Regions from separate parts of the Homo sapiens genome. Here regions 1 and 2 are each linked to region 3. The links come from fine-mapping of genetic effects on gene expression. A gene starts in region 3. Each other region holds a variant in brackets. All regions are shown on one strand. Distances are between the middles of the regions.

Region 1 (8,000 bases), 20 kb before region 3:
TCTAATCTTGTCCACCTGCACCACACTGGCTCTGCTTTTTTGTTTGTCGGTTGGTTTGAGACAAGGTCTCGCTCCATCACCCAAGCTGGAGTGTAGTGGTGCAATCATGGCTCACTATAGCCTCCAGCTCCTGGGCTCAAGCGATCCTCCCCCATCAGCCTTCTGAGTAGCTAGGACCACAGGTGGGCACCACCACACCCGACTAACTTGAAAAGTTTTTTGTAGAGATGAGGTCTTGCCATGTTGGCCAGGCTGGTCTCAAACTTCTGACCTCAAACTATCCGCCGGCCTAGGCCTTCCAAAGTGCTGGGATTATAGGCATGAGCCACTGTGCCTGGCCTGCCCCTTCAATTCAGAATGAAGACAAACCACCTCACCATACCCTACAAGGCCCTGTGCAGCCTGGCCCTGCCTCTCTGGCATCATCTCACACCTCACTGCACTCTGCATTTCCAAAGGACTTCTTTAGAACTTGCCTTGCTCCCTCCCACCACTAGGCCTTTGCACATGCTCTTTCCACCTGACTGTTGCCGGTTTGTTCGTCTTTTGAATCTGCAATCACTTTCTGCCTGGGGAAGCTTCTCTGACCTCCCGAACTAGGTCAAGATTCCCCAAGTACAAACTCTTTTCTTGCACGGACACAGCTGCAATTTTACACCTGTTTGTGTGATGATCTAACAAGTGTCTCTGTCTTCCCCATTGCACTGTCACTTCTACAAGGGCAGCAGCAGCACGCTGCACTTCAGTGAATGAAGGTATCCCTGTATGTTGCAAAAGCAAAATTGTATTAAATTGTTCCAGGGCGGAATTTATTTGTCCAACACAATTCACATCTTTCGTTTGGGAAGAAATTCCTTAAAAATGCCGAGGCAATTTTCTGGTTCACTTGAATATTAATTTTTTTTTTTCTTGACAGAGTTTCACTCTGTCACCCAGGCTGTAGTGCAGTGGCACAATCTCTGCTCACTGCAGTTTCCACCTCCTGGGTTTGAGTGATTTTCCTGCCTCAGCCTCCCAAGTAGCTGGGACTACAGGCACCTACCACCACTTTGTATTTTTTTTTTTTTTTAGTAGAGTTGGGGTTTCACCATGTTGGCCAGGCTGGTCTCAATCTCCTGACTTCAAGTGATCCACCTGCCTGGGTCTCCCAAAGTGCTGAGGTTACAGGCGTGAGCCACCGTGCCTGGTCTTGAATGAGAATGATCCCTCTTCTGGGAAGCCCACTCTGGCATTTGGGGGCCCAATAATCTTTTTTTTTTTTTTGACAGAGTTTTGCTCTTGTTACCCAGGCTGGAGTGCAATGGTGCAATCTCAGCTCACTGCAACCTCCGCCTCCTGGGTTCAAGCAATTCTCCAGCCTCAGCCTTCCGAGTAGCTGGGATTACAGGCGTCCACCACCATGCCCAGCTAATTTTTTTGTGTGTTTTTAGTAGAGATGGGGTTTCATCTTGTTGGCCAGGCTGGTCTAGAACTCCTGACCTCAGGTGATCCGCCTGTCTTGGCCTCTCAAAGTTCTGGGATTACAGAATAATCTTTAGACATTTCTTAATCGAACCACTGTCTTGTTCTTTCACCTTTTGTTAGATAACTATAAAAAAAAAAAAAAGATTGTTTTGGCCGGGTGCGGTGGCTCACGCCTGTAATCCAGAGACCAGCCTGACCAACATAGAGAAACCCTGTCTCTACTAAAAATGCAAAATTAGCCGGGCGTGGTGGCCCATGCCTGTAATCCCAGCTACTCGGGAGGCTGAGGCAGGAGAATCCCTTGAACCCGGGAACTCCGGTGAGCCGAGATCATGCCATTGCACTCCAGCCTGGGCAACAAGACCGAAACTCCGTCTCAAAAAAAAAATTGTTTTAAGGCCCTTTTCTTGCATAAAGCTTGAAACTCCTATATAAGTAAATTTCCTGGTTTGTATTTTTGTAGAATAATCTCGAAGCATACATAGTTCTTATTTGTGGGAAATTAGAATTCTAAGGCCTTTGGACGCTGCAAAGCCAGAATTTCTCGCGTGAAGAACACGCCCTATAGCATCCTCCCCGCCACCTCCACAGCACCCCCTCGTGTTCACAGCATTGACAAGCATGAATAGCGCGGGGCAGGACAAGGACTACATTTCCAATAAAGTCTAGCATTTATAGTGACGTCAGAACGGAGCGCGGGCTGGCTTTCTAGAGCCACAGCTTTTCCATTGGCCAACTATTGGAGGCGCCTGCGCAAATGGTGCAGTCCCGCCCCCTCCACCCTGTGACGCGCCTGCTGGGCCCGAGCTTTTTCCTGGGATAGCGATGGAGACGCCGGGCGCATCAGCGTCGTCCTTGTTGCTTCCCGCCGCGTCCAGGCCCCCGAGGAAGCGCGAGGCGGGAGAGGCTGGGGCTGCGACGAGCAAGCAGCGGGTCCTGGACGAGGAAGAGTATATCGAGGTACGACCTCGGTGCGGACGCCGGCGACTTCTGGGCCCATCCTCTGCTTCAAGCTCCTCTCAGGTTCCCTCTCTCGGGTGTTGACACTCCGTCTCCTCGTGGAAGTGGAGGAGCCGGGTGTGGACGGTCCCACGAGTCAAGTAAACAGGGCAGAGGAAGACGTCTGTGGTGGAAGAGGCTGTAGTAGTGTTGTCAGGGAAAAGAGAGAGCGGCTCTCTTTGTATGGGACGGGGGTCAGGGAAAGAAGATTTTCTGTTAAAGTGTGAGTAGGAGTTTGACAAACTGGAAGGATGGTGGCAAAGAGGGCTTTCTAAAGAGCGGTGGCAGCAAGTGTGAATGCTGGGGTTCCTGGAAAGAGACCGCAGTTGTGACAGCATCTCGAGTGAGTGGACCTGCGTCGCCCCACCACACGCACACAGAAGGAGGAGCTGAAACGGGGATTGGCGGAAGTCAGTTTGGTTTTAGACCTGTTTAATTCGGGACACCTTTTGGGATATGTAGATGGATGGCTTTAACGGACGGTTGGGTGCCCAGATATGCAGCTCGGGAGCAAGGTCTGGCTGGAGGTGCAGACTTGGGAATCTCAACTTGTGGTAGTGACTGGCTGAAGTTACTCAGGAAAAAGGTTTATTTTTATTTTATTTTTTGAGACGGAGTCTCGCTCGTCGTCCAGGCTGGAGTGCAGTGGCGCGATCTCGGCTTACTGTAACCAACCTCTGCCTCCTGGGTTCAAGCCATTCTCCTGCCTCAGCCTGCCGAGTAGCTGTGACTACAGGTGCCCGCCACCACGCCCGGCTAATTTTTGTATTTTTAGTAGTGGTGGGGTTTCACCATGTTGGCCAGGCTGGTCTCGAACTCCTGACCTCAGGTGATCCGCCCGCCTTGGCCTCTCAAAGTGCTGGGATTACAGGCGTGAGCTACCATGCCCCGCCAGGAGAAAGGTTTAGATTGGAAATAGAAAGTCATGTGTGGAATGAAAGTGACAACACCCACATTGGTCTGGCTTGTGGGGAGCCAGCAATGGAGAATGAGAATGACCAGTTAGCAAGGGCGAGAGAGAAGGGTTTCACGGACTTCAGAAGAGTGTTTAGTAATGTTAGAGGTTGCAGCATGGCTACCATATGGGATGCTCAACCCCACTAGAAAGTGCCCTCAAGC[T/C]CCCTCAATCCAGCCCCAGTCATTGGGGAAGTAGAATTTGAAGGAGGTTCAGCAAGTTCCTTAGCATGTACAGCAGTGGACCTGTGAGGCAGGAGCACCCAGACTGCAGCTCCGACTTTCTTTTTTCTTTTTTTTTTTTTTTTTTGAGACGGTCTCGCTCTGTCGCCCAGGCTGGAGTGCAGGGGTGTGATCTTGGCTCACTGCAACCTCCGCCTCCCGAGTTTAAGCGATTCTTCTGCTTCAGCCTCCCACGTAGCTGGAATTACAGGTGCCTGCCACCACGCCCGGCTAATTTTTGTATTTCTAGTAGAGACTGGGTTTCACCATGTTGGCCAGGCTGGTCTTGAACTTCTGACCTCATGATCCACCTCCCTTGGCCTCCCAAAGTGTTGGGATTACAGGTGTGAGCCACCGCGCCTGGCCTCTGACTTTCATTCTGATCTCTCCTTGCAGGGCCTCCAGACGGTCATCCAAAGGGATTTCTTTCCTGATGTGGAGAAGCTCCAGGCACAGAAGGAGTACCTGGAAGCCGAGGAGAATGGAGACTTGGAACGGATGCGCCAGATTGCCATCAAGTTTGGCTCTGCCTTGGGCAAGATGTCCCGGGAGCCCCCGCCACCCTGTATGAGGACCCTGTGGGTGGCGGAGAGGGGAAAGCCTGCTGAACTGTCGCTTCAGGCTCACTCTAATTCTTATCCCCCTCTCTTCCCCTAGATGTGACTCCAGCCACATTTGAAACCCCTGAGGTGCATGCAGGCACTGGAGTGGTGGGCAACAAGCCCAGGCCCCGCGGCCGAGGCCTGGAGGATGGTGAGTGAGGGTGCCCTCTTTAAGTCACATGGTCAGGATTGCCTGGGAATCTTAGCCTGTGAGGCCCTGAGGGGGTGGTCCAGAGGGCTGCAGGCCACATCTTGTTCCTGAGGGGTCTTGCGTAAATAGCAGCCTGTGAAGTCAAAGGACATTGGTCTAGGTGGTAGAACATCTGGGTCCAGCTCCCACACATGGCTCGCCTCTGTGAAATGGGACTCTCACCAGCTCTTGCTGGCTTTTCTGCTGTGTTCCAGCCCTGCCCTGTGGGCTTCATGGATGTTGGAAGGCCCCTTTTGTTACTATCCTGAAGATGCCTCAGGGCCTCTCCATTTGTTTCCTTCATGTTGGTCACTTCCCAGATAACTGCATGGCTCACTGTGTTTCTTCCTGTAGATCTCTGCATAGGTGTTACCTGTTCAGAGAAACTTTTCTTGACCTGCCAGTGTGAAGTCACAACACCACTGGTGCTCTGTGGCTTCCAGCCTGGCTTTGGTTTTTCATCACAAGACATTTTATTTTATTTAATTTCATTTTATTTTTAATTTTTTGACACAGAGTCTCGCTCTGTCACCCAGGCTGGAGTAAAATGGTGTGATCCCGGCTCACTGCAACCTCCACCTCCCAGGTTCAAGCAATTCTCCCTGCCTTAGCCTCCCAAATAGCTGGGATTACAGGCGCCTGCCACCACTCCTGGCTAATTTTTGTATTTTGTAGTAGAGACGAGGTTTTGCCATGTTGTCCCGGCTAGTCTTGAACTCCTGACCTCAGGTGATCTGTCTGCCTCGGCCCCCCAAAGTGCTGGTATTACAGGTGTGAGCCACCGCGCCTGGCCAAGACATAACGTTTTAAAGGCATTTCTGTTTATGGTCTCTTTCCCTAATTGGCATCCCTTGCACAAGAGCAGAAGCTTTGTTTTGCTTTCATCTGTATGCTCCGTGTTGGGAACAGCACATGTGGTGTTGTGGGCCTTGCACAGATACACATGGAACAGATGAAAGAGTTGTCATCTTCAGCATGTTTGCTGGGACACACAGCTCTATATGGTAACATCGTGACTTGATGGGGGAGTCGGTTTAGGAAAGGGCACTCCGAGTCCTGTTGAATGCAAGTGTTCTGCACGCCATGGGACTTCTGCGTTGTCAGGCCCTCTTTTCATCAGTAGTAGAATGTCAGTGCATGTATAGACAAACGAGACACTCTTTCTTATCAGTTTGTAGACTCCACTGTGCTGGAGTAGCACAGATGTGTTGTGTGTTTGCACAAACATGCAAACATGATACTTTTTGCTTTACAATCCAGCTTTTTCGGCCATTAACACAGTCCTTGTTGTCCTTGAAGCTTGATTATCTGTTGAAATGTAGCTTGTGCATCACAGGGCAATTTGTAGATTTTTTTCTTCTCCTTTTTTTTTTTTTTCCTATAGAGATGAGGTTTCATTATGTTGCCCAGGCTGGTTTTAAACTTCTGAGCTCAAGTGATCCTCCCACCTTGGCCTCCCGAAGTGCTAGGATTACAAGTGTGAGCCATCATGCCTAGCCAGTTTGCAGATTTTCAATACCTGTACACCTACATGCCAGTAAATATAGGAATCCTTTTCAGAACCTAAGTGGTAGGAACCATCATCATGTTTACAGGTGAGGAAACTGAGGCTCAGAAAGGCAGTCACTTCTGCAGGTCTCAGAGATGGTCAGGGTTTCACTTCTTATCTCTCTGAGATGAATAGAGTTTCTGACCCCTGTCCTCATCCCGTGGGTCTTGAGCTTGTAGCCACTGTGCCTTGTGCATAGCCTCACGTGTAGCAGGTGGTCAGGACTGTCACTAGACTTGAAGGCAGAGCTCTCCAGGTGGCCCCACCGAAGTTTGCACCACCACACGCAGCACCAGGGCACCACCTCAGTGGGAGTACCACTTTCCATGGTGGCAGGGTTGGTCGGAGGGGGGGGTGTTTGGGGTTGTGGCTTAGCACCTGTGAGGCCCCATCCAGAGGACTAAGTCATATGAGATCCCTGGAATTGGGGCTCGCTCTCAGGTCAGGATGATTAGGCGATGACCACCCACCTGTAGTACAGGTACCAGGAAGAGAAGAGTGGGTAAGGTAAGGAAATCCTAGGGAGTGAGGGAGAGCCCCAGGGATTTGGAGGCCTGGCACCCACAGGCCTGGCACCACTTTGGTGGGGGAGGAGCCTGCCTGTGATCACGAGCTCTTGCTCTAACACCTGTATTGCTTTCTCCAGTCTGAATCAGACCACGTAATTCCCTTGGCATCCAGCACATGAGCAGAGCTGGCCCTGAATCTGTAGGGTACCACCTGAGGGCTCTCTGGGCAGTCAGGGTGGGTGGATTCTGCCCCCGTGGGGAGTCCTTGGCAGTGTGGGCTTTCATGGGCAGAAGCCAGGACCAGGGGAGAGGATTCCAGCCCTGCATGTTGGGGGCTATGATTCCTGGGCCTGGGTGTCCTCCTCTTTCCTGACTGCAAAGGGTGCTGTGTTCCTCCTCCCGCAACCCCTAAGCAGGAGAGGCTGGAGAGGAGGAGGAGAAGGAGCCGCTGCCCAGCCTAGATGTCTTCCTGAGCCGCTACACGAGTGAGGACAATGCCTCCTTCCAGGAGATCATGGAGGTGGCCAAGGAGAGAAGCCGGGCACGCCACGCTTGGCTCTACCAGGCTGAGGAAGAGTTTGAGAAGGTGTCTCTGGGGTCTGGGGTGTCACATAGGCGTAGGCACCCTCTGTGGTGGTTGGGGAGCCCCAGGGCCATGGGTACAATGCCCAGGGGCATCTCTGACCATCACTTTTCCCCATGTGATTGCAGAGGCAGAAAGATAATCTCGAACTCCCGTCAGCAGAGCACCAGGCCATCGAGAGCAGCCAGGCCAGTGTGGAGACCTGGAAGTACAAGGCCAAGAATTCCCTCATGTACTATCCAGAGGGTAAGTGGCGGGCCTCGCAGCCAAATGGGGAGGTGTTGGGTAGAGCTGTGTGTGTCTGGCTGTGTTTGGAGCAGCCTTCCAGGTGTGTATGGCCGTGCCCCCTTGCAGTTTGGGCTTCTGATGGGTACTGGTCTGTCTAAGGGTGGACAGGTCTGTGTGAGGTCAGCAGTGAGTGAGACCCTCTCCAGCGGCACTGGGGCCTGCGTTCTGCTCAATGCTTTTGTTCATCTGGGAGTGACTTGGCCGAGAAGCGAGCTCCTCATGCTCCTTAGGCTGCTGCCCTTCTGACACCTGCTGCTACCTTTGCTTCGTCTGCCAGGTGTCCCTGACGAGGAGCAGCTGTTTAAGAAGCCCCGGCAGGTGGTACATAAGAACACGCGCTTCCTTAGGGACCCCTTCAGCCAAGCCCTGAGCAGGTGCCAGCTCCAGCAGGCAGCCGCCCTCAATGCCCAGGTGAGCAGGCGGGTCAGCAGGGCCGCATGGGCCAGGTTGGACAGGGCTGCCTGGGGGCAGGCATGATCTCTCCCATCTCTTTGAGCTTGGCAGAGCTCAGTGAGTGGAACCATCTGGGGCCCTGTGCGGCAGGATCCTGAGTCTTTCCTTGGCCCCAGTGGGCTTCCATTGAACACTGCCTTGGTCACACACGTTCTGTAGGTCCAGATCTGTGCCAGCTCCCTTGATG
Region 2 (8,000 bases), 85 kb after region 3:
GTCCTAGGACAGGAAATCCTAGTTTGCTCCGGTGATGGTCAGAGGGGTGTTGGCACACAGCAGCCTGGGGCCATGGTGAGATGCTCCTCCTGACCTGGGATTCGCTCTTCTGCTTCTGTGCTGTCACCATGTTCTTGATTTTGAGCGGCCTTATTTCACATGTATCCTAAAGATGGTTGGGTGCAGGGAGACACTGTGTGCCTTGTCCACACAGCCCGCCTGGGCAGGAGGACGACAGCATCCCCAGCGTAGCACGAGGGTGGCCCCCTTCTCAGAGCGGCCATTTCCTCCCCTCCCCCTCAGATGGCAACAGTCTGTTTGACTCCATGGCCAGCGGGATGCGCCTGGTCGTCAGCTGCATCTCCTCCTTCCTCATCCTGTCACTGCTGCTCTTCATGGTCCACCGGCTGCGCCAGCGGCGCCGGGAGCGCATCGAGTCCCTGATTGGAGCAAACTGTAAGTGCCCTCTGAGGGCCACAACCCTGGTCCCCATCCCCACCCCAGGTCACCCCATGTCTCCATGAGCTCCCCAGCCCTGGACAGAGAGGGGCAGAGGCAGGTTTGAAGGCCACATGTTGTGGGGTCTGTGTCCTCACCTGTGGGCCAGGAAAGTTCTTGCCAAGACCCTCCTTATTCCCATTGAGCCACAGGGTGGGCAGAACTCGGAGGCCTCTGAGGGTCAGAGGCCCGGATCACCCTTCCAGCTGGAGGGGTGTGGTCAGCCAGAGGCTGGGTCTGACAGAAGTGTCAGCCCAGAGGGACAGGTTGGTGTGGTGAGGGTGAGACATGCCACGGAGCACACCAGGGGTCTCATGGGGATGCCGAATGTGGCCGAGGGGTAGGCAGCGGGGCACAGGTGTGTGCACTCAGGGACGGCAGGCCCAGCCTGGGGGTGGGGGGCTCAGGAGCCAGGCAGCCTGCCCCCAGTGACTTGTCTCTGTTCCCGTTGCACACTTTTGATGGCCCAGTGCACCACTTCAACCTCGGCCGCAGGATCCCTGGCTTTGATTACGGCCCAGACGGGTTTGGCACGGGCCTCACGCCGCTGCATCTTTCTGACGACGGAGAGGGTGGGACTTTCCATTTCCACGACCCTCCACCTCCCTACACGGCATACAAGTACCCGGACATCGGCCAGCCCGACGACCCTCCGCCGCCCTACGAGGCCTCCATCCACCCGGACAGTGTGTTCTATGACCCTGCAGGTGCCTGACTCCCCAGGGAGAGGGAACACCTTGTCAAGTAACCTGGCACGTGGGGCTGAGCCCAGCACTCTTGCCCAGCTGCAGAGGCCTAGGGACCTCACTTCTTTCCGGCTTTGTCTTTGGTTTTTCCTTTAAGGCTTCTCCTGGGGCTGCCCGTGCAGAAGGGGTCCTGATCTCCCTGCCTGGCCGCCCTTGGCAATCTGTGCAGAGAGCTCTGAGAAGGCCTGGGACCCCTCCCTCCTACCTCCCTGCCTTCTGTGAGCACCTGTCATCTGGGCAGCCCTCAGGGCCCTCAGCCCAGCTCTAGAGACCTGGGGAGCCCGACAGTGGTGGTTGTGAAGACAGGGCTGGCCCAGACCCAGGAGCCAATCACTTGTCTGTAGACACATGAGCTAGAGACACCATGGTGACAGCCCCTCCTGTCGTGTCAGGAGGCAGCTCTGTGAGGTGGGAGGAAAGCGTGGCTTCTGTGCTACTGGCCCATAGTTGGAGCCTACCACCCATCTGAGAGTGGGCGCCATTCCTCAAGGCTGTGTAGCTAAGGAGTGGCAGGCCCCTGACCCCTGGCCTGTCTCTGTCTCTGTTGAGCAGTGCAGGTGTCCCATCCCATCTCCCTGTGCATTAGGCCCCCTAACACACACAAACCTGTAGTATATTTGGTAGGCAGTGCCACCCCAAAGTGGCTGGCTCCTTGCATGCCTGCCCATCTCGGCAGAATGGGCATTGTGAGGCTGGGGCTGCTGTGCCTAAAGGTCTCAGTCCTGTTCGTTTGTTTAGTCAGCTGCCACAGCTCTTGCATGATCTGGGGGTGCAGAAAAGACTTGCATTTGACCCCTGCCCTCATGACACAGATTGTCACAGTCTTCCAGGGTAGGACCAGCTTCCTGCAAGGGATGGTGGTGGGTGGCAGCAGATCCCAGACACCTGTGTGGGCCAGGCTGCAGAGCAGGGTGGGGGCTGTGAGGGGCTGGCCGGGAGGGAGGTGCATCACCGGGGCCTTGTGCTGTTAGCTTTCAGAGACAGCCTATGGTAATGACAAGCAGGCAGCCCAGGCGCAGTGGCTCACACCTGTAATCCAGCACTCTGGGAGGCTGAGGCGGGAGGAGGGGTCTCACTATGTTGCCCAGGTTGGTTCGAGACCAGCCTGTGAGACCTCCTTCTCCACAAAAAATTCAGAACTAGCCGTGCATAGTGGGCACAGCTGTAGTCCCAGTTACTGGGCAGGCTGAGAATGGAGGATCACCTGAGCCCAGAATTCAAGGCTGTCATGAGCCATGGTCACGTCACTGCACACCAGTGTGCAATCTTTTAAGATCCTGTCTCTTAAAAGAAAAAAAAAGCAAGTAATAAAGATCGGGCAAAACAAAGCGAGTCGACTGCCTACCACACAGCCTGCCTTGGATCAGAGCTTCCTGCAAACACCTGTGTGGTTTTCCAGGCCGCTCACTGCAGCCCTGTTGCCCACACTCCGGTTGCCACATTCCAGCTGCAGCCCTGAATGTTCTTCCACCCACCTGGGCCCAGTGCCTCCCTGATGACAAATGCCCCTGCCTTCTTGCTGAGCCGGGTCTTCACCTTACTGAGTCTGAGACGGTTTCCCTTTGGGCCCCTCTGTTCTAGTGACTGCTGGTCAGTGTGTCTCCCCTACCTCACACCGATGGTGGGACAGGCCCGTGTCTGCCTTTGTGAGATGGGCCCTGCACCTTGCATATACCAGGTTCCCAGCCACAGGGGGCAGTAGGTACAACAGGTGTCATGTGGGGCAGGCTCCTCCTTCAAAATCTGAGGCCCGGGGGAGCCACCCAGGTCCTGCTCACCACCCAGCTTCAGGGGGGCCTTCAGGCAGGAGGAGTGTCTCCTGGTTTTGCCTAGCTCCCCTGCATCCCCTGTGCCAGGCCCGTACCTGCCTCTGACACCCCTCTGTCTCTTCCTGCAGACGATGATGCTTTTGAGCCTGTGGAGGTCAGCCTGCCAGCCCCTGGGGATGGTGGGAGTGAAGGTGCATTACTCCGGCGCCTGGAGCAGCCTCTGCCCACTGCGGGGGCCTCTCTGGCAGACCTGGAAGACTCTGCCGACAGCAGCAGCGCCCTGCTCGTGCCCCCTGACCCTGCCCAGAGCGGGAGCACCCCAGCTGCAGAGGCACTGCCAGGGGGTGGCCGCCACAGCCGCAGCTCCCTCAATACTGTGGTGTAGACGGCCTGGCCTGTACCCCAACGGTCTGGGAGCACCTGTCTGTTGTAGAAAACACCGGTCCCTGGGGAGACTTGAAAGGCCCCTGTCCCAGCCTGGACGCCACGCACTGCCGCACGTCACTGGCGGGCTCGCGTGTGTACATAGAGACCACAGCCCGCCTTCTGCCAAAAGAAGTGATGGCCTGCACCGAGCTTCCTTGAGGGCTTCAGAAACATGCATAGCTTTGGATCACTGTCTTCTCCTTTATAAATGGCAGAAGAGTGACAAAATTCATTCAGACCGCACATGTTAGAGGCAGGGAATGAAGAAGGTACTGTGGGCCATGGCCACACCTGATGCGTTTTTGGTGGGCTTACTTGGTGCAGTGTGCTGTCCAGAGAGACCTGCTGACCCAGTCTGGGACAGGCACAGTGGGAGCTGCCACAGTGCCCCTTGCTGGCCGCCCTCAGGAGGGGGCCTCTGGACCGTCAGTGTGGCGTA[G/A]GCAGTGGGTCTGCTTCAGGGAGGCAGCCTCTTGACTTTGTCACAACGGTTGCACTGAAGATGGCCCCCACAAGCCCAGTTGTGAATATCAAGGTGACCCTGCCCCTGGCTGGGAGCTCCCCTGGGGCTCTGGAACCTGAAGCCCTGAGAAGGAGAGCTTGGAAGGAGGTTGAGCTCTTCACTGTGTCTTTCCATCTGGGCTCTGCAGCCCAGCTCTGTGGCAGGAGGCCTGACCCCACCCCATCAGTCCCTCTCCCAGCATTGCTGTGCATGGCTCCCTCAGGAAGAAGCTCTGGAGTGGGGCCGAGGCCCCAGATGCTCTGCTGGGGTCTGGGGACTGAGCTGCCTCCTGTCTCTCCACTCTGGAGCCCTGGGCTCTTGCCTCCTGTTGAATTGCCCCTGGGCCTGCCCCCGGCCCCATTTGTGCCATAAAGGGTTGCTTCATTGCAGGAGGGGTGGCTGAAACCACCATCCTGGGCTGCATCTATCTCCTTAAAGTCCACTCCTTACATCACCGCCACTACTGCAGCTCAGTGCCCAGCGGCCGCATGCACACCTCCCGGCCCCTCCTCAGCAGCGCAGGGGCTGGGGGCCCTTCCTGGCACCCTTTTGCCTGACGGACCCTGTTGCCTGCTCCTGGGCAGTGGTTTTGTTGCCTGACACAGGGCCTTTAACATTTCTGAGGTTTGGAGATTAAGCGGGTTCTGTGCGATTTTTAGCACATCCATATCTTTTCTACGTTGAATGTCTGGATCTTTCCTTTGTATGTTTGTGTCTCTGTGTGTGTATGTGGCCAAGCGTCTGCAGGTGAGGGTGGCACATGGAACTTCACGGGTCACTGGGGGCCCACTCTTCCAGGGTCATCGATGCATCCTGGGCTGTGCTGAGGCAGTGCTGTCTCGCTCAGTCTTTCCAGACCAGCGGGGCAGCACCTGGGAGGCCTGTCTGAAGCATGCAGTTCTGTGGTGCTGCTCGGGGATGGACTCCATGCACAGTCCACTTCTTGACACATTCTCACACTGTGGCTGGAGACCCATTTTTTCCATCCCATGTGGAATGAGAATCTTGAGTTGCCCACAGACAGACTTGACCTTTGTGCCAGAACTGTCCAGAGCTGTGAGTTTTGTTACTGAATTGCCTGTCCCTGAGCTTGGCCTGCTGGAGCATGATGCTGGAGGCTGTGTGCGGGCAGGCTTGTGCTCCCCTTGGAGAAGGGCTGCTACTTAACAAGGAAGTCCTGGCCACAGGAGTCCCCTACTGGCTGCAGAGGACGAAGCAGGAAGCATGCCGTGGATCCCACATGCACTGGGGCAGGGCAGCCAGGTTCCAGAGCAGCAGGCATGTGCATTATGGGTGCCAGGTGGCCAGTGAGGGCCCGAGGACCACGCAGCAGAGTCCCCCACGGGCCTGAGCCTGAGAGCTCAGAGGATTCCTGCCAGGCCTCAGAACTGTGTGTGCGGGACAGGGTGGCTGGCACGAGATGTGTGGGACTGGGACGCTTCCTTTGGGGACCAGAGGAACATTAGGGGCCGGTCAGACACGTAGGGGGCAGTGAGGAAACGGGGTAAAGTGGACCATGCAGGCTGCAGAGGGTGGGCCTTGGGCTGGCCGGGGTTGCTGGGTGGCCCCTTCCCCATGGGCCTCCACAAGCACTCAGGCCACTGGCACGTTGGGCCAGGCAGAAGGTCCACATGGCAGGGCTGCCTGGAACACCGCTGCCACTGTGGCTCCAGGAGGCCCTTGGGAGCATGAGGAGAGCTGGACTCGCTCATCTGTTCTTGCACCACCATCCAGAATGCCCCCTTTGCAAGGCCTGCTGCAGTCCCCAGTCTGACCAGCAAGTCCCGGGGTCACCCTTGCTGAACCTTGTGCTCCAGGGGTCCTCCTCCTCTAGGACCAGCTTGCCACGGTTTCTCAGAGCCCAGGTGCCCTCTGACCTGCCATGCGGAGGTGGGATTTGATACTGTACATTGTCTTGATGCCTGTTTTTTTATGTTTTCATTAAGGGTTTTTAGTTTTTGGTTGGGTTGACACTAACTTTTCTTAAGATGCTGTGAGAATCATTTCATCCAAATGCCAAATAAACTTGTGTTCCGGAAGAGGCATGGTTAGTCCTTGGTGTGGCCCCCACGGCTGCCACAGGCTAAGGTGGAAGAGGCTGGGTACCCACCTTTCAGCAGAATGCACCTAGGGTTTGCAGCCCTTGCAGGCGTCCATCAAACCCCCTGAGGACCAGGCAGAGCTGAGCCTGGAGCCCCTAGGTGGAGTGTGCAGGGAGAGCAGCAGCCCTGAGCTGCCTACAGCTATCCTGCAGCACCCAGCCCTGCTTGGGGCATCGGCTGCTGCCTTGGCAGGTGTTGCTGACGTGCACAGGATCCACATAAAGGCAAGGCTGCTTGACACCATCTGGGAGCTAGCATGGGACGGGGTGGTAGGGCAGGGCTTGGAACCTGGCCGTCAGCGCCATTTCCTCTAAGCTCCCCTCATCATCCGGGTGGCTGGAAACAGCCCCTCCCTCCAGTCCAAGCCACCTAATGTTACAAAGTAGCCTAGGTCCTCTGGGGCCTCTTCACTCATGTCCAGCAGTGCCATCTCTAGGTCTCAGAGGGTAGTGGGCCCAGGAAGTGTGATTGCATGCCCTGCTCTGGGGGCACTCCAGATGTGTATACTGGGGGGACGTCCTGCGGCCGGACACGAGAGGAGTCAGGGTTAGGAAAGGAACTGGTAAGTCCCTTGGCAGGGATGGGAGCCTCGAGGATGTGGCCCCTCATTTTTTATCCCATCTGCTGGGGCAGGAGTGGAGTGGTGGTGTTGAGTCCCGAGCACACAGGTCACTGTCAGCACTCTGGACAGAGCCCCGAGCCCTGCCTCTGGGTAGGGGCTGTCTTCCCATCCCCAATGTGGGTAGGGCCCTGCCCTCTGGCGATTGGAAAGAGGCGCAGGGTGCAAAGAAGTCCCCTCCTCTGACCTCCTGCAGGGCTCCGTCTTGGCCTGGATCCGCAGGGGGGCCTGGGTAGGAGGGAGGCTGTGGTCTTGGGATGGGGTGGCAGTTCCGGGCCCACAGTGGGGCAAGAGACATCCTACACCTTCCTCCCATCCTTGCCCCGAAAGTCATGGGCACTGGGGTCCAAGGTGCCCTCACTATTTGACCTTTCTTGCTGGTGGCTTTGGTGTGTCATTCTGGTCCCCAGCCTCTGTTTCCTGGACTGTAAGTGGGGATAATAATAGGTCACCCCTCCCCTGCAGGATTAACCTCAGCGATTGTTGCTGGCATCAGTGCAGCCCTGGGACCAGAGCACACCTGGGTGAGTTTGGAGCGCTCGCGCTCTTCCTGGTGGCCCTGCCTGGGCACCGACCCCTCCCATCCTCTCCTCAGTAGCCACGCCCCTAGCCCAGCTAGCTAATGAATAAATATGTAGTAGCCAGGCCAGCATCCTGGCTGCGTGGTCTAGCCACTTTCTAGTCCTTCCTAGCTGCGGCTGCCACTGAGCCACGCACGCCCCTGGCATCATGCTCGCCTTGCGGTGCAGCTGGTGTGGCGCAGACTCTGAGAGTGAGCACCAGGACTCTTCCTGTCTGGCCTCCAATCTACCCTCTTGCCATGCTCCACCACCCCTTAGGTCTTGCCACTGGGAGTGGGGAGGGACTGGGGAGAGAAAATACTGAGGTAGGGGTGACAGGAGAGAAGGTTCTTCACTGGCCTCCCCTGGCCTAAACCCCTGACCTACTTCATTCTTGGACCCCAGCTGATGGGATGGGGCTTGGAGAGGGCCCAGATGACTGGCCTCTCAGCTCAGCCTCCTGCCCACTGTCTCTATAGGTGCCTGGTGCTATGACTCCCAGGACCTCAAGTATGGTGAGGACAGAGTGTCATGTGAGGCTGTGTCAGATCAGTCTGTGTCCTGGGACCACCAGAGCATGTGCCAGTGGTGCAAGAGTGGCCAAGAGACAGTCTGCACCCTGCACTCTGTGGCCTTTGCAGGTTTCTGTCTGTAGTCGTCTGCCCCAGTAGACTGACTGGGCATCAGGTGCAAGTGCGTGACTGTCCCCCTGTGTGTGAGTCTGGGCCTGCTGTGATTGCCGGTCCCGAGTCAGTCAAGGCTGGTGTGCCCGTTACTGTGG
Region 3 (8,000 bases):
TTAAACCACGTGGAAGGGGGCTGTGAGAACATGAGGAGGCAGGTGGACTTGGGGAAGAGCGCAAGGAGGGCCAGTCCAGGCTCTCACTAGACCCTACTTCTCCAAGGGGACTGAGGTTGGGGTCTTCCCGAGGTAGAGAAGTGACCATAGGTAGACTGTGGACAGTGATCATCGATGTTGCTGGCAGTGGAGCTCCTCTGCTCTGACATTCTCTGTGTCCAGCACCTGCTTCAGGCCCCGCCCTGGGGGAGTGGGAGTCGCATGACAGTCCTAGCCTTGGGTTTGACTTTGGCCCCATCCACTTAGAGGCCATGGGAGAGGTAATTCTGAAAGCGCTTGTCCTTTGTGGTTGCCTGTCGTATCCTACTTGCCAGTGTCAACTTCTAATGCAGGGGTGTCGTCCCTTGGGACAGGCTGGGACGGGGACAACAAGATGTGGTCAAGACCACACAAGACTGTGGGACATGCTCAGGCTGGAGTGTGGCTGGGCCATCCAGCAGAGCCTCCTATTTCTCCCGGGCTAGAGAATGACCACAGGGTGCGGCGACCCCGGCACTGTTGAAAGCTGGGTGCTGGCTGGACACAGGGGGCCTCTGATGGACAGAGCACAATGAACGAGTTGCCCAGCAGGGTAGGGAGCTCAGGAGTGGCTGAGAGGCTGGCCACCTGCCCTCTGCAGCCTCCCACAACCCCCACTGGCAGCCTTGTGGGGCTGGAGAGGTCTGCCCAGACCCTCAGTCCCAACTGCAGATAAAGCCTGCGCTCCTCTACAGGGGTACCTCGGCATGCTTCTTGGTCCTGTCCTCTCCCTGCCCTTTCCCGACCCCAGCACCGCACTTGGGGGCGTCCCTTCTGAGGCAGCGGCTTCCTCACTCACCTTTCAGCTCTGGCCCCTGCCCCTCCAGGTCTCTCCCAGCCCCAGCCCAAGCCCCAGCCCCAGCCTGGGCCTGAGGTCATGGTCTGGACTGGGCACGTTGGGATGTGTTTTCCCAAGCAAACGAGGAATCATTGCACAATCTGAGTGGGAAACCAGTGGAGGGGAGCCCAGGACTAGTCAGTTGAGGCAAAGACATTCACTTTGGCATCTGCATTAATATAGTGATTTATTGCTCCTTTAGCAATGTCGGTTATGAAGTTCAAGGGGAGAGAGAAGAAATTGATGAAAACAGCGGCTCATCCGGGACCGTCTTCCTTCTCTGGTTTGTGCCTTGACTTCTTCAGAGCTTGGGCCTGAAGGCGTGAGCTCCATCTCATTCGCCGCTGGCACACTGGGCCACAAACGGCTCACTAGGTGCGCATCTCTGGAGGCTGCTGGGGGGCCCTTCCTCTTTCTCCCTGGTCGACGGCTTGCTGGGGAAGCCTAGGATGTCCGACTGCCTGGACATTTGCATTGCCAACCCCTCAGGTTTTGTCTCAGGCTGTCCCTCGGGCTGTGTCTGTTCCCCAGGCTCCAGCTTGGTGGCAGACCTCTTGGCAGAGCCAGGTTCAGGGGTCCACAAGAGTTCAGTTCCCTGGGAGCTTTCCCCCTCCTTGTTGAAGACCATAGAGGGCAGTCCCTGTGCCTTGGGCTGCACCCAGCATTGGCTGAGGGTGTCATGGATGTGCAGCCGCTGGCTGACGTCGGGCTGCAGCATGCAGTAGATGAGGTCCTTGCACTCGTCTGTCAGGTTCTTGGAGTGTGGGAAGTCCACGCGGTGCTCCTTCTGGATACGCAGCATCTTCCTGATGTTGGAGTCGTAAGGCATGGAGCTGCAGACCATGATGTAGAGGATCATGCCCAGGCTCCAGATGTCATACACCATGGGCTGGTAGGGGATGCCCTGCAGCAGCTCGGGGGCTGCATATGCCACCAACCCGCAGAAGTTCTTGCTTAATCTCTGTTGGCCACTGTCATCCCGCAGGCAGAGCTTGGAGAACCTGAAGTAGAACAGCTTGATGTTGAAGTCCTTGTCGAGGAGAAGGTTCTAACACTTGAGGTTCTGGTGCATGATGTCCAGGTCGTGGCAGTATTTAATGGCTGAGGAGAGTTGGTGGAACATCTTGCACGCCATGTCCTTGGGCAGGGCTCCCTGGCACTCAATGAACTAGTTTTTTTTCTGCCCCTGGCTGGGCTCCCAGGGCAGATCTGGGGCTGGGGGCTAAAGGCGGGGACTGGATGCCACCCTGAGCACTGGTGGCTGCTCTGAGGACAGTACAAGCAGCAGGGGCAGCACTGGAGAGTGTGGCCATTGTTTTTTCTGGCAGTGGAGCCCCTCTGCTGTGCCAGGCTCTGTGTCCAGCACTTGTTCCGGGCTATGCCCTAGGGGAGTAGGAGTCACATGACTATCCTAGCCTTGGATTTGACTTTGGCCTCATCCACCTAGAGGGAGTGAGCACCCCTTTCTCACAGGAGCCAAGTGGAACCCTGGGCCCCTCAGGATGACTTGGTAGGGCGGGCTGGTTGTCACTCATGTTGGGTTGGGTCCCCACCTGCCGTGGCCCTTCCCCCTTTTCTCTGCTCCTTCACCTTCTTCCCTAACGCTGACTGCCCACTGCCAGGCCTTTGTGCATTCTTGGTTCTCCTCCTTCCAGACAGCCTCCTTCTCCTTCCCGCTGGGGACACCCCAACTACTGTCTCCTGGAAACCAAAAATAAAACTCTAACCCCCCAGCCATCTGAATGGACCCCTCCTCTCCACCAAGGGCATTCCAAACTTAACCTGAAAAACTATTTCAGGCCGTGATAGGAAGTGGGAGTCAGGCCTCATTATCCCTCCTCCCTTCAGGTTTCAGGCACAGCTAAGCAGTGTAACATCGACACAGAGACTTGAAGACTGACAACAGACTCTGTGGCAGTAAGATACCAGCATGACAGCAGGCCCGGAAGGAAACACATATTTTACTGCAAAACAGGTTTCTTTCACATATTTTGAAGTCGCTCTGCAAAGCTGTTTTTTGTGGGGAAAATCTACATTCTGTAGAGAATCCCTATCCCTTTCAAGGTCTTTTCTCCTGAGAGAATTAACTAGAGTCTGGCACCTTTTATTTATTTTTCCTTTTTTTTTTCCTTTTTTTTTTTTTTTTTTTTGAGACAGAGTCTTACTCTGTTGCCCAGGCTGGAGTGCAGTGGCATGATCTTGGCTCACTGCAACCTCTGCCTCCCCGGTTCAAGCGATTCTCCTGCCATCAGCCTCCTGAGTAGCTGGGATTACAGGCGTGTGCCACCACGCCTGGGTAACTTTTGTATTTTTAGTAGAGATGTGGTTTCACCATGTTGGCCAGGCTGATCTTGAACTCCTGACCTCAGGTGATCCGCCCGCCTTGGCCTCCCAAAGTGCTGGGATGACAGGCGTGAGCCACCACACCCGGCAGAGTCTGGCACTTTTTAATAAGAAACATTAACAGTCTTTTCTCTGTGAAGCCTGATACCTGGAGGCTTCATTTGCCTAAGAAACTTGGTCTCCACAACCCCTTAATGTAGACAGTCCCTTTTATTGATTCCAGGTCTTTAGATAAACTCTTTGAACCAACTGCCAATCCGCATGACCTAGAAGCCCCCCTCCACCCCCCACTTTCAAGTTGTCCCGCCTTTTCCGACTGAACCAATGTATATCTTACATGTGCTGATTGATGTCTTGTCTCCCTAAAATGTATAAAACCAAGCTGTGGCCCTACCCCCTTGGGCACTTGTCAGGATCTCCTGGGGCTGTGTCCCAGGCTATTGGTCACATATTGGCTCAGAAGAAATGTCTTCAAATATTTTACAGAGTTGGACTCTTCGCCGACACTGCCCTCCAAGGTTCACCCTGTTGGTGATGACGGGAGAAGTGGCACTTGGAGCACTGTTCGCAGGGGCGCTGAGCCTCCTCTCTGCCTAGCTTTCTTTCCTGCACATGTGGCCTTCCCCTAGCCATTGTGTAGGCAGGTCCTCCAGGGAGCCGGCTTCGCTGCAGTCTCCAGGACCTGGCCTTCCCGGTCTCTCTTTGCCTGACACTCTCTTAGGCCATTCCTGTTCCTCTTTCCCCACCCTCAGAACCGGCAGGCCCTCCCTCCTCCACAGCGGTTCGGCCTTAAAAAGACCCCTTTGGGGCGCACTTTTGGGCTGCTCACGGGACCTGAGCTTGCAGGTGTGAAGACCCTTGGAGTCCCAGCCAGGTTCCCACTTCGTTCTCTCCGCTCCCCACCCGCGCGACCCCTCGGCGCCCCGCCCCATGCCCCGCGCCTTTCGATGTCCATCCTTGCCGTCCCGCGCCCGCCGTCCCTAACCGGCGTCCAGAGACCCTACTCCCTTCGGTGGCCCCGCCGCTCAGGCCCCGGCCCCGGCCCTGCCTCTCTGCTTAACCAATGGCACGCCTCACTCCGTATGGTCCCGCCCTTCCCTTAGAGCCCGCCCCTCAGTCCCCGCCCTTAGGTCCCCGCCCTCCGCCGTCGCGACCTTAGGCCTCACCCTCTTCGGAGGGCTTTGGCTCTGGCCCCGCCCCCCATCTTGACGGTCATTGGCCCGCGCCTGCGTCGCGGGCGGGAGGCGGGGCGGGGCGGCGCGGCGCGGAGCCGAGCAGGACGGCCGCCATCTTGCGCGCAGCTGGAGTCGGTGCCTGAGGTTGCAGCCGAGAGTGTGCGCCAGCCCGCGGCCCAGCCGAAGCTCTTTCCCGCCGCCTCTCCGCGCCTCGCCCAGGTTCAGCTCCGCCTGACCCTCCGCTTGGCACGGTCCCCTGACCCTCAGTCCGGCCTGGTCCGGCCTTCCAGCCGCCCCGGGGACGATGAACGGAGGATAAATGGTGCCCAAGGCAGACAGCGGCGCCTTCCTGCTGCTCTTCCTGCTCGTGCTCACTGTCACCGAGCCGCTGCGGCCAGGTGCGCCGCGCGATGGGGGCGGTGTGGGGGCTGGGCGGCGAGCGGGGCCGGGGTCGCCCCGGGACCTCCTTTCACCCGCGGCGCCCTCCTGCAGGGGCCGCGCCTGGGGCAGGGGCGGGCGGGGCCTGGCTCGCGGGCCGCCTGGCACTCTCTGCGGACGCCTGCTGGAGCTTACCTGGGCTCGCGGCGCCTCGGACTTCGTGCAGCTCTGCTGTCCAGGATGTTGCCTCTGGGCCCTTCCCGGGAGCGGCGGCGGCCAGGAGCTACGCCACGGGCGCACCCTCTCGCCAGTCCAGCGTCGGAGTCGGGCTGGGGACAGTGGCTCTCAGGGGCACCTGGTTTCACAGACGTCCTCCCAGCAGTGGCCTAGTGCCAGCCTCTCAGTCCTGGAAACTCCTCGCCTGGACAGCGGTGGTTGTGGCTGTCATTCAGTGAGACGTTGCGCTAAGGAAGTCCTCAGGTCCCACCGGGCCTAGAGGAGGCACCAGGAGTCAGCCTAGCGTTGTGTGGCCGGCGCGAGCGTCCCGGGAGCAGAGACCTCGCCACTGTGCGGGGCCCTTAGCCGTGCTGCGTGTATGTGATGAATGAGTCCGTGCTTTGGAACTCCCCTCGGAGCTAGTGTGTTCTTAAGTCTGTGGTGGGGAATCAGAACCGTGGCAACCAGGAGACCCTTTTCTACCTATTTCGGTGTACCTCCCCTTGAACTGCACCAAAAAATCAAACTCCCTAAATGCAGGGCCGATGTATCCATCAGGCACAGGAATCCTGGTATCACTTGCCCACGGTACTTTTAGTAGCCTTCGAATGTTATTTTATTTTTTTTTAAAGTCAGCAGAAAAAAAATGAACTTTTAGGTCAAATAAAATGTTTTCGTATGTATATTAATACAGTCATCTTTATACTAATACAGTGAAAAAGCATGACTCTTAATATTTCTTAATGGAGGAAAGGTCCCATGAAGGCAGAAGTGCCAGGGCCATCTTCTCTGATGACCTGGGTGTGGGAGCACGGGGTGTGTGGCCCTCTCCTGTGCCCTAGCCAGGCTCCCAGCCCAGATACACCGCACCTCTTGGCTCTGCGCTTGTGTCATCTATGTGGAATGTCTGCCTCCTCCCTAGTGCCTGCCTGGTGGCCAAGGCCCTGACCGGTGCTCAACCTGGACAGATTCAGTGATGCTTCTCTGGTCTCCCCATGTAGAGCTAGTTGCTCACTGCTTTTGGCTGCTCTCTGGGCAGCGGGATGACTAGTTGTGGGGTGGCCTTGGTAAGAACAGAAGCCAGGAAAAGGGCTACCTGTGGAGGAGGGTATCATATAGGCTCTTGGAGGTCAGAACCAATGGGTTTGTGGATTCTTGTGATTAACTTCTTTAGAAAACATATATGTACGTGTAGAGAGGTAGAAGGTCACCGTTTTCTGATTCTTGAGTCCCAGTTTTGCAGATGAGGTCACCGGGCTCAGGTGAGGCCATATTATGCCTGGCTTCTTTGGGGTGCCTCTGGTTCCAGGCCCAGCATCTCCTGCCTGGGTGATAGAGGTGACTGACGTCCCCGACTCCTTTTTCCTTGCCAGCCTTTTCACATAGCCTGCCAACTGGCCAGCAGCAACTGAGAAAGTGCCTGTGGGTGCTTGCCCCCTGCCCATCCCTAGGGAATCCAAGTGACAAGAACAAGCCCCTCCTTTTAGGAGTGCCTGATGTGGAACAGAGGCCAGGTGTAAGTCACTTGTCACACTCCTGTGTGTTGAATACCCTGGAGTGTGGGGTCCCAGAGGTGGGTGGAGGTGGCCATCTTTTTGTACCTGTGAAGCAGTGAGGGCGTCACAGGAGACCTCACACTGAGGTCGGAGTAGGGCATGGGTGGGGTGGATCTGGTAGAGGGAGCAAACTTATTCTTTCGATTCCATGACTCTCCAGATGAGAACATTGCAGCTACCCCTGGAGGCGTCTTGAGTTGCCCTGCAGAACCCGGGAGCTGCAGCTGGCTTCCTGGCTTTGGCTGGGCAGGGAGGGCAGGCCTCTGGGCCTGATGTGTTCCTTGTATGCCCGTGTGTGCCTCTTCACACATTCACCATGTGTCCTTCCTGAGAGTGCTGCAGGGATCTGCCTGGCTGGTGCTTGCAAGAGGCTGGGGCTTCTCTGGTCTTAGTCTGCGTTCTTTCTGTGGGGATTCCGGCCTTAAAAGCATACTTGAGTATGAGGAAGGTATCAGTCAGAGCCCACTTCTCAGGAGGGTGTTTTCTGACTCCTGCCTGGTGGGGTCCCTGAAGATGATGCCAAGCCACCTGGGCTTCCTCTCTGGTACAGGGCAGGGTGGAAGGCCTTTCATGGAGTTATGGGGCAGCAAGTGCTTGCTGTACTTGACCTTTCACCAATTTTTTTTTTTTTTTTTTTTTTGAGACAGAGTCCTGCTCTGTTGCTCAGGCTGGAGTGCAGTAGCGTGATCTTGGCCCACTGCAACCTCCACCTCCTTGGTTCAAGCGATTCTCCTGCCTCAGCCTCCCGAGTAGCTGGGATTACAGGCATACGCCTCCACGCTCGGCTAATTTTTGTATTTTTAGTAGAGATGGGGTTTTGCCATGTTGGCCGGGCTGGTCTGGAACTCCTGACCTCTGGTGAGCCACCTGCCTTGGCCTCCCAAAGTGCTGGAATTACAGGCCTGAGGTACCATGCCCAGCAATTTTTTTTTAAGTGCACATTTGAACTTGATTTAAGATGTGTCATGTGCCGGACACTGTTCTAAGCACTAACATATGTTAACTCTCAAGAGGTCCCTGCTAGATGCTGTTTTTAGCCTCATTTAAAGATGGGGAAGCTGAAATCCAGAGCACTCATGAAGCTAAGGCTGAGATGAGATTTCATCGTAGGAGTCTGGCCTTCCCCCCATCATGCACCCGTGACTGGGGTCTGTGCACTCCAACTGTGTGTCTCCAGCCCAGCCACAGGAGTACCTCATATTATGCTCTGAACAGCTTCCTTAACCCCAGGTGGAGCCACAGACTGCCTCTGTCCCCTGTTAGGTCCCAGGGTCCTCTAGGTGAGGGTGCAGAATCTTTTTCCATGTGGATACTCCAGTCTGAGGGACAGAACCACTCACCCTCTGCCAAATCCCTTCTGTGTTTGGCCATGTGACCACTGATGATGTGTGTTATGATCACTGGGGGTGTGATGAG

Alleles and levels. Positions count from the first base shown, and alleles are read on the strand shown. Sizes are in standard deviations (SD) of each study's normalised expression. Not every link is listed here.
As copies of G replace A in region 2, the expression in atrial appendage of the gene that starts at base 4,548 in region 3 goes down (moderate effect, 0.54 SD a copy in GTEx).

The links. PIP is the estimated chance that this variant, and not a neighbour inherited with it, causes the effect.
Region 1: its variant is fine-mapped to the expression of DGCR2 in atrial appendage (GTEx, PIP above 0.99).
Region 2: its variant is fine-mapped to the expression of DGCR2 in atrial appendage (GTEx, PIP above 0.99).

What each region holds. Positions count from the first base shown.
Region 1 is chr22:19,138,930-19,146,929 of GRCh38, reverse strand. It overlaps ESS2 (ess-2 spliceosome associated protein), which reads left to right and starts at 2,279. Exons shown (of 10, transcript NM_022719.3): 1 at 2,279-2,424; 2 at 4,036-4,204; 3 at 4,297-4,392; 4 at 6,906-7,075; 5 at 7,201-7,318; 6 at 7,638-7,771. The coding sequence starts at 2,290. RefSeq lists an enhancer at 2,704-3,210. The variant T/C (reference allele first, on the strand shown) is at 3,583.
Region 2 is chr22:19,034,263-19,042,262 of GRCh38, reverse strand. DGCR2 (DiGeorge syndrome critical region gene 2) reads left to right here. Exons shown (of 10, transcript NM_005137.3): 8 at 304-456; 9 at 969-1,205; 10 at 3,142-5,977. The coding sequence ends at 3,398. It also overlaps the pseudogene CA15P1. Among named protein-coding and RNA genes, the nearest start is that of FAM246C, 8.7 kb to the right of the region's middle. RefSeq lists an enhancer at 4,971-5,591 and a silencer at 6,075-6,244. The variant G/A (reference allele first, on the strand shown) is at 3,879.
Region 3 is chr22:19,118,960-19,126,959 of GRCh38, reverse strand. It overlaps DGCR2 (DiGeorge syndrome critical region gene 2), which reads left to right and starts at 4,548. Exons shown (of 10, transcript NM_005137.3): 1 at 4,548-4,832. The coding sequence starts at 4,754. It also overlaps the pseudogene TSSK1A. RefSeq lists silencers at 4,224-4,663, 4,784-4,903 and an enhancer at 4,688-5,189.